Homo sapiens: one gene and its partner. The protein of the gene in region 2 purifies or fractionates together with the protein of the main gene of each other region. This does not show direct contact. Each region holds a gene or a part of one and is shown on either strand. Other genes may lie near its edges.

What was found.
Region 1: the proteins of FNBP1 (region 2) and FCHO1 fractionate together in Homo sapiens (co-fractionation; one large-scale study listed by BioGRID). This does not show direct contact.

The regions. Positions count from the first base shown.
Region 1 is NC_000019.10:17,785,758-17,789,203, reverse strand, and holds the end of FCHO1 (F-BAR domain only protein 1), read right to left. Parts: intron 2,631-3,446; coding exon 2,575-2,630; intron 1,523-2,574; coding exon 1,358-1,522; intron 935-1,357; coding exon of another isoform or gene 921-934; coding exon 898-920; coding exon of another isoform or gene 794-897; 3' UTR 643-793; downstream 1-642. UniProt on the Homo sapiens protein: Functions in an early step of clathrin-mediated endocytosis. Has both a membrane binding/bending activity and the ability to recruit proteins essential to the formation of functional clathrin-coated pits.
Region 2 is NC_000009.12:129,886,674-129,890,078, reverse strand, and holds the end of FNBP1 (formin-binding protein 1), read left to right. Parts: 3' UTR 1-2,892; downstream 2,893-3,405. UniProt on the Homo sapiens protein: May act as a link between RND2 signaling and regulation of the actin cytoskeleton. Required to coordinate membrane tubulation with reorganization of the actin cytoskeleton during the late stage of clathrin-mediated endocytosis.

The DNA of each region.
Region 1 (3,446 bases), on a different chromosome or scaffold from region 2:
CCTGGGGCTCCCAAAGCTGCCTGGTACTAGTGGGGGTTTTGCCCTGTAGTTGGCACTCTTCTAAGTGTGTGACCTCCCACAGATATCCAGTGAGGTGAGTTGCAGATGAGCTGAGGCTCAAGTCCCGTGCTTAAAGTCACACAGCCAGTGGCCGCCAAGCAGGCTCCTCACTCAGGCTTCCTATCTCCACTTCCTGGGTTCCAAGAACTTTGTCCTGCTCATAGCTCTCTCTCTGCTACATGGTATACAGTAGATACTCAATTAATATTTGTAGGTTGACTAATTGCTTCCTCATTGAACTAACAACCTTCCATCACTTTGCTTGGGATGCCCATTCCTATCTTGCAAACTCCTACTCATACCTCAAAACCTCATTTATAATGCCCCCTCCTTAGAAAGTCTTCCTGACTGCTTGGGAAGACTCCTGACACCCCTTTCTGGGCTTCTGTAGTCCTCCTCCCTCCCTATAGCCCACCTCTGAGCCCATGGGGCTGGGGTATCTGTGTTGTTCTTTCTCTCCCAGAATGGCCCTGTACCGGTTGAGCGCAGTGCAGGGAGGGAGGTACATTAGGTCTCTCGTATCCATCCACCTTCTCTTCCTCCCCTCTCTGGCAACGCAAAGGATACTTCCTGGAGCAGGAAAAGGTTTCCTTTTTTATTTTATTAGAAAATAAAGTGTTTATTCAAAGAACATTAAAAGGCCGGGACCTGTGTGGGGTTGGCATGAGGGGGAGGAGCGAATCTCGGGCTCAGCCAGGCTGGGCATGGGGCTCCTCTCCGTGGAGTATGGGCCTCAGGGAGGCTGGGGTGGGAGGCCCCAGGGTCCGGCAGGAGGGCAGGGGGTGGTCAGCCAGCACCAGGGCGCAGTGTAGAGCTGGGGCAGCAGCATTTGCGGGTTCAGCAGCTCACCAGGTACATCCCTGTGGGGGTGCAGCTGTGAGGGGGAGGGGTGGGGAGGAGGGGTACGGGAGGGGTTCCCCGGCTCTGACCCTGGGATGCTTCAATCATCCTTGTCCTCTTCAAAACACCCCTGTAACTCATAGTCCCTGTTGCCACTGGGCCCCAGGAGCCCCTTGTTGGGGGCAGGAGAACAGGGTGGGGCTGGAGGAGGGGGTGGCAGGGGGGACTTCGGGCTCCCTGGCTGGGGTCCTTCCAAGGACGTCCTCCAAGGGCCAGCCCCAGATACACAGGGCCCTGCCTCCTTGCCCACCTGTGCCCCCCATCTGGGGTCTCCTGGCCCCAACACCCACCTATCTTTCCCAAGGATCCCCACACCCCAATCCCTCCCCACACCCCGGGGCTTGCCCCTGTAAGATCTCGGCTCCTGAGGTCACCCAGCAGCAGGGTTGGGGAGTACCTGTGGCAAACCTCCTCTTCACCAGCGACATGCGGTAACCGCTGCCCACCAGTTCCAAGTCCACGCCCGACAGAGTGGTCCCCTCGCTGGTGAACTGTGCAGCCACGGGGCTGGGTGTGCTGGGCCCTGAGAGCGGCTCCCAGCTGGCAGAGAGGCGGCCAGAACCTGGGGAGACCTGCAGTCAGCTGCGCCCTGGCACCAGCCCCCGTCCCAGCTGTGAACCAGGCTCATCTTTGGCCCACACCTGAAGCCCTCTGTTCTGTGGCCTTTATGTGCCCCATCAGACCTCCCTTTGATCCCCTGCATCTGTCTCTCCTGGCATCACTGGGCTTTGTATGGCTAGCAAGGGAGTCCTGCCTCAGGGCCTTTGCACCTGCTGTGTCTGGCCATCTGGCCCTGGGACGCCCTCTCCTTCAGCTTTTTTTTTTTTTTTTTAGAGACAGGGTCTGGCTCTGTTGCCCAGGCTGGAGTATAGTGGTGCAATCATAGGTCACTGCAGCCTCTAACTCCTGGGCTCAAGTGATCCTCCCACCTGGGCCTCCCAAAGCACTGGGATTACAGACCTATGCCACTGTCCTTGGCCCTCCTCCAGCTTTTTTTTTTTTTTTTTTTTTTTTTTTTTTGAGACAGAGTCTCGCTCTGTCACCCTGGCTGGAGTGCAGTGGCACGATCTCGGCTCACTACAACCTTCACCTACTGGGTTCAAGCGATTCTCCTGCCTCAGCCTCCCAAGTAGCTGGGATCACAGGTGCGTGCCACCACACGCGGCTAATTTTTATATTTTTAGTAGAGACAGGGTTTCACCATGCTGGCCAGGTTGGTCTTGAACTCCTGACCTCAAGTGATCTACCCACCTCGGCCTCCCAAAGTGCTGGGATTACAGGCGTGAGCCACCACACCTGGCCTTTTTTGTTTGTTTGTTTGTTTTTGAGTCAGAGTCTGGCTCTATTGCCCAGGCTAGAGTGCAGTGGTACGATCACGGGTCACTGCAGCCTCCAACTGCTGGACTCAAGTGATCCTGCATTCTGGGCCTCCCAAAGCACTGGGATTACAGACCTATGCCACTCAGCCCGGCCCTCCTCCAGCTTTTAAAGACTTCCTCAATGCCCATACTTGCCCGCCCTCAGTATGTCCCCAATTCTTCCCCAACATAAATAAGTGCCTCCCACCTGACCCCAGTCCCTCCCACCCAGCCCTCATACACAACCACAGCTCACCGCCTGCCTCGGACACATCTGGAAGCCTCCAAGTGAGCCGCTTCTCCTCCAGGTTCCTGGCAGAGAAAGAATCTTAATCAGGGCTTCCCCAGAGAGGATGCTGAGAGCCCAGGGTCCTGCCTCAGCTGCCTCCTGGCTGTGTGACCCCAACAAACCTTCTCCCCCACTTCACCTCAATTTCCTCATCTGTGAAATGAGGGTGAGATATGGAACAGCCGTGGAGCCACACAGCCTTGCAACACTTCTGTGTGTGTGTGTGTGTGTGTGTTTGTTTTGTGTTTTTTTGTGTGTTTTTTTGAGATGGTGTCTCCCTCTGTCGCCCCGGCTGGTGTGCATTGGTGCGATCTCTGCTCACTGCAGCCTATGCCTCCTGGGTTCAAGCGATTCTCCTCCCTCAGCCTCCTGAGTAGCTGGGATTACAGGCGCCCGCCACCACGCCTGGCTAATTTTTGTAATTTAGTAGAGACGGGGTTTCACCATATTGGCCAGGCTGGTCTCAAACTGCTGACCTCAGGTGATCCACCTGCCTTGGCCTTCCAAAGTGTTGGGATTACAGGCATAAGCCACCATGCCCGGCTTCCTTGCAGCACTTTTAGATGACGCATTCTGTCCTATAAGTCTGGCTTCTTCACAACAGACTTTTTTTTTTTTAAATTTTTGTTTTTTAAGAGACAGTTGTCACCCAGGGTAACTCCTTGAAGCCTCAACTCCTGGGCTCAAGTGATCCTTCTGTCTCAGCCTCCCGAGTAGCTGGGACTACAAGAGCACACTACCACTACTATTTTTTTTTTTTTTTGAGACGGAGTCTCACTCTGTTGCCCAGGCTGGAGTGCAGTGGCATGATCTCAGCTCACTGCAACCTCCACCTCCCG
Region 2 (3,405 bases):
TCATCCGTGTGTCCCAGACTGTCTGCTGTAGAAAACACTTCCTCCTCTCCTGAGTCTGTGAAGTCCTCAGTGGTCCTTTTTGGATTCTAGGCTTGCACCTCATACTAAACATTGACCCTTTCACTATGCCCTCAACCTGGGAGCATCTGGCAGGCAGGGGGGCAGGTACACACACACCCACAGGCACACCCACCAGTACACACGCGTGCGCATACACACATTTTGGTTTGACGCCCTGTTTTCAGTGGCCTGGGGAGGTCCACACTGGAAGTCGAATTCCAGCTCGCCTTGTTGACTCGCCTGTGTCCACCGGCCATGAGGAGCCCACGCCTGTCCTCCCCATCACTTTCCTGTCCCTGAGAACTGTAGATCATGCGCTTGTGAGCGAGGCCCTCCCCTCTGCACCAGCTCATTGCAAAGCGAACATCCTCTCCTTTCCAGGAGCCCCAGGATTAGCATCTGAAAAGGGTAGCACTTCCTTTTTTGTTGTTGTTTTTTTTTTTTTTTTGAGACGGGAGTCTCGCTCTATTGTTCAGACTGGAGTGCAGTGGCATGATCTCGGCTCACTACAACCTCCACCTCCTGGGTTCCAGCGATTCTCCTGCCTCAGCCTCCCAAATAGCTGTGATTACAGGCGTGCACCACCACGCCCGGCTAATGTTTGTATTTTTAGTAGAGACAGGGTTTCACCGTGTTGGTCAGGCTGGTCTCAAACTCCTGACCTCAGGTGATCCGCCCGCCTCAGCCTCCCAAAGTGCTGAGATTACAGGTGTGAGCTACCGCACCCCGCCGAGGTTAGCACTTTCATCACCAAAGACCCCGTGCCTCTCGTGGTCCTTTGAGGGATCCCGCCGCCACCACCCTTGTATTTTATCACGTGCTCTTCAGGGCATGTGGAATTCGTTGAGTTTGCTTTTAGAGCCAAGTTTCTTTCCCTGTGTGGGTTTTTGAGGAAAACCTGAGGTCCCCTAATCTGTGGCCACCACCCCCCCCCCCCGCCACGCCTTAGAGCAGAGCAGCCCCTCCTCTCATTTGGTGCAGAAACAGTCAAGAGGAACCATTGGCCTAGAGCTCCTGTGACCGAGAGCGCCACGGAAGCCTGGGGATGACGTCGGGCAGCTTTATTCTTTGCTTGGCTTTGGTAACTAGGTGGTCCCCTCAAGCATCCTCAGTTCCTCTTGCTGTTTATGAATCTAAGACAAGGAAGTCCTATAGAAGCCAAAGGGACAGGGACGGAAAGGACAGGTCCCAAGGGATGGGGCTGTCTTTACTTGTGGAAACCAGGAAATTGCTCCTCTCAGCCAACCAAGGTTGACCACACACCACCCTTCCGGAGCAGCTCAGTCAGCCCTCGGGGACGAGAAACCACAAGCGCAGAGACGCTGAGGCCCAGGCAGGTGAAGAGGAAGTGGCTTTGGGTTTTTAAAGTAGGTGAGCGTGAGCCTCTCTGACTGCTTCTTCCCCGGGGGGGACTGCAAACCGCTCAGGGTTGCGGCAGAGCCATGGACTTCCGGTCCCTGCAACGGGTGACCTAAGCGTGGTGCACCCATCAGTCACGCAGGAGGACTGACTTGACAGACGAAAGACAAGCCCGGATGACACAGGGTGAGAAGAGTCAGGGCCGCACCTCTGTCCCTGCAAACCAACAGGTGCATGGTGAGTGTGGCAGTCCCCACAGCTCCACAATGGGCTCCCCCGCCAACGGGGACGACAGGGATCTTCAGGAACTTCTGACCTCACCAAGTCAAGTGGACCACTCTCCACTCCACGAGGATGTGAAACGGTTCTTTAAAATGGGATTTTAGAGCCTCGGGAATGCATGTGCGTCACATCTTTCATATTATGGGTCAGGATAGATTCATTTCTTGCAACATAGTGGAAAAGATATAAGCTGCAGTAATTTGCTCTTTGAATGACCGTCACCCCCAGTATAGGATATGCTTGTATCCCCCCGTCACTCCTCCGCCTGTTTTTTAAACTTTTCCACCACCTGCGTCCAAAAAGAATGTTATAGCGAGTGCTCTTAAATGTTGAACCTGGGTGTTGCTTCCGGGCCAGTCTGCGTGGCTCCATGAAAAGCTCACTGCTGCCCCAGCCGGGCTTCTTAGAGGAGGTCAGTTGTCCTATGTATCATCATTTACTCTGGGAATCCTACTGTGAAATCATGTCTGTATTTTTCTGGAGCAGTTCACATAGAGTAGAATGTGGAATTTCCCGTGAACGTCTCCTTCCTCCCCCGTATCTGCCGCCTGTCACTTCGCCACCGTGCTAGAATACTGTTGTGTTGTAAGATGACTAATTTTAAAAGAACCTGCCCTGAAAAGTTCTTAGAAACGCAGTGAAAGGGAGGAACTTGTCCTTTACCCAGTTTTTCCTTTGTAGGATGGGAAAGTATAAAAAGGCACAGAAGGTTGTCATGGGCTGTTCCTTGGGGGTTTTTATCCTGCTCACCGTGGAGATAAGCCTGCGGCTTGTCTAACCAGCGCAGCGCAAAGGTCTCGATGCCTTTTGGTAACATCCGTCATTGCAGAAGAAAGTTTACACGACGTCAAAAAGTGACGTTCATGCTAAGTGTTTTTCCAGAAATATTGGTTTCATGTTTCTTATTGGCTCTGCCTCCTGTGCTTATATCATCCAAAAACTTTTTAAAAAGGTCCAGAATTCTATTTTAACCTGATGTTGAGCACCTTTAAAATGTTCGTATGTGTGTTGCACTAATTCTAAACTTTGGAGGCATTTTGCTGTGTGAGGCCGATCGCCACTGTAAAGGTCCTAGAGTTGCCTGTTTGTCTCTGGAGATGGAATTAAACCAAATAAAGAGCTTCCACTGGAGGCTTGTATTGACCTTGTAACTATATGTTAATCTCGTGTTAAAATAAAATATAACTTGTGGCTCCGTGTCACGGGACTGTTTTGTTGCATGAAGATATGACCCTAGTTGTGGAAGCAGCCTGGTGTCATTGGAAGCCCCCTGGGCTGGGGAGCTGGCCCCTGGGAGGAGCTGGAGACCTAGATAGCTCTCAGTTCCACCCCCATCCACGGTGGAGGGGGAGGCTCTCAGACCGTGGTGACGTGGAATTCGGGCTGATGTAGTGCGAGGATTGCGAGAGGCTGCTTATGGCCAGGAGTATTTTTTGCATGCACATTCAACTGGTTGCTGCTCTAGCTCTTTGGGGACCTCATTGCTTGGGGCTGGGGCAGGAGGAGGTGGTGAAATGAGGGCACACCTGAGTTTCATTATTTATCTGGTATCACCAGTGCTCAAGCCGGTACTCCTGGTGGCGTGGCTGGAATCACTAGTTTCTGTGAAGCTGCAGGCAGTGCGGAGCTGTTTCACGTGGACAACTCGAAAGGGCAGCAGCCTTGTGCCTGGCACTGGCTGGACATGTGCAGTGGGAGGCCCCG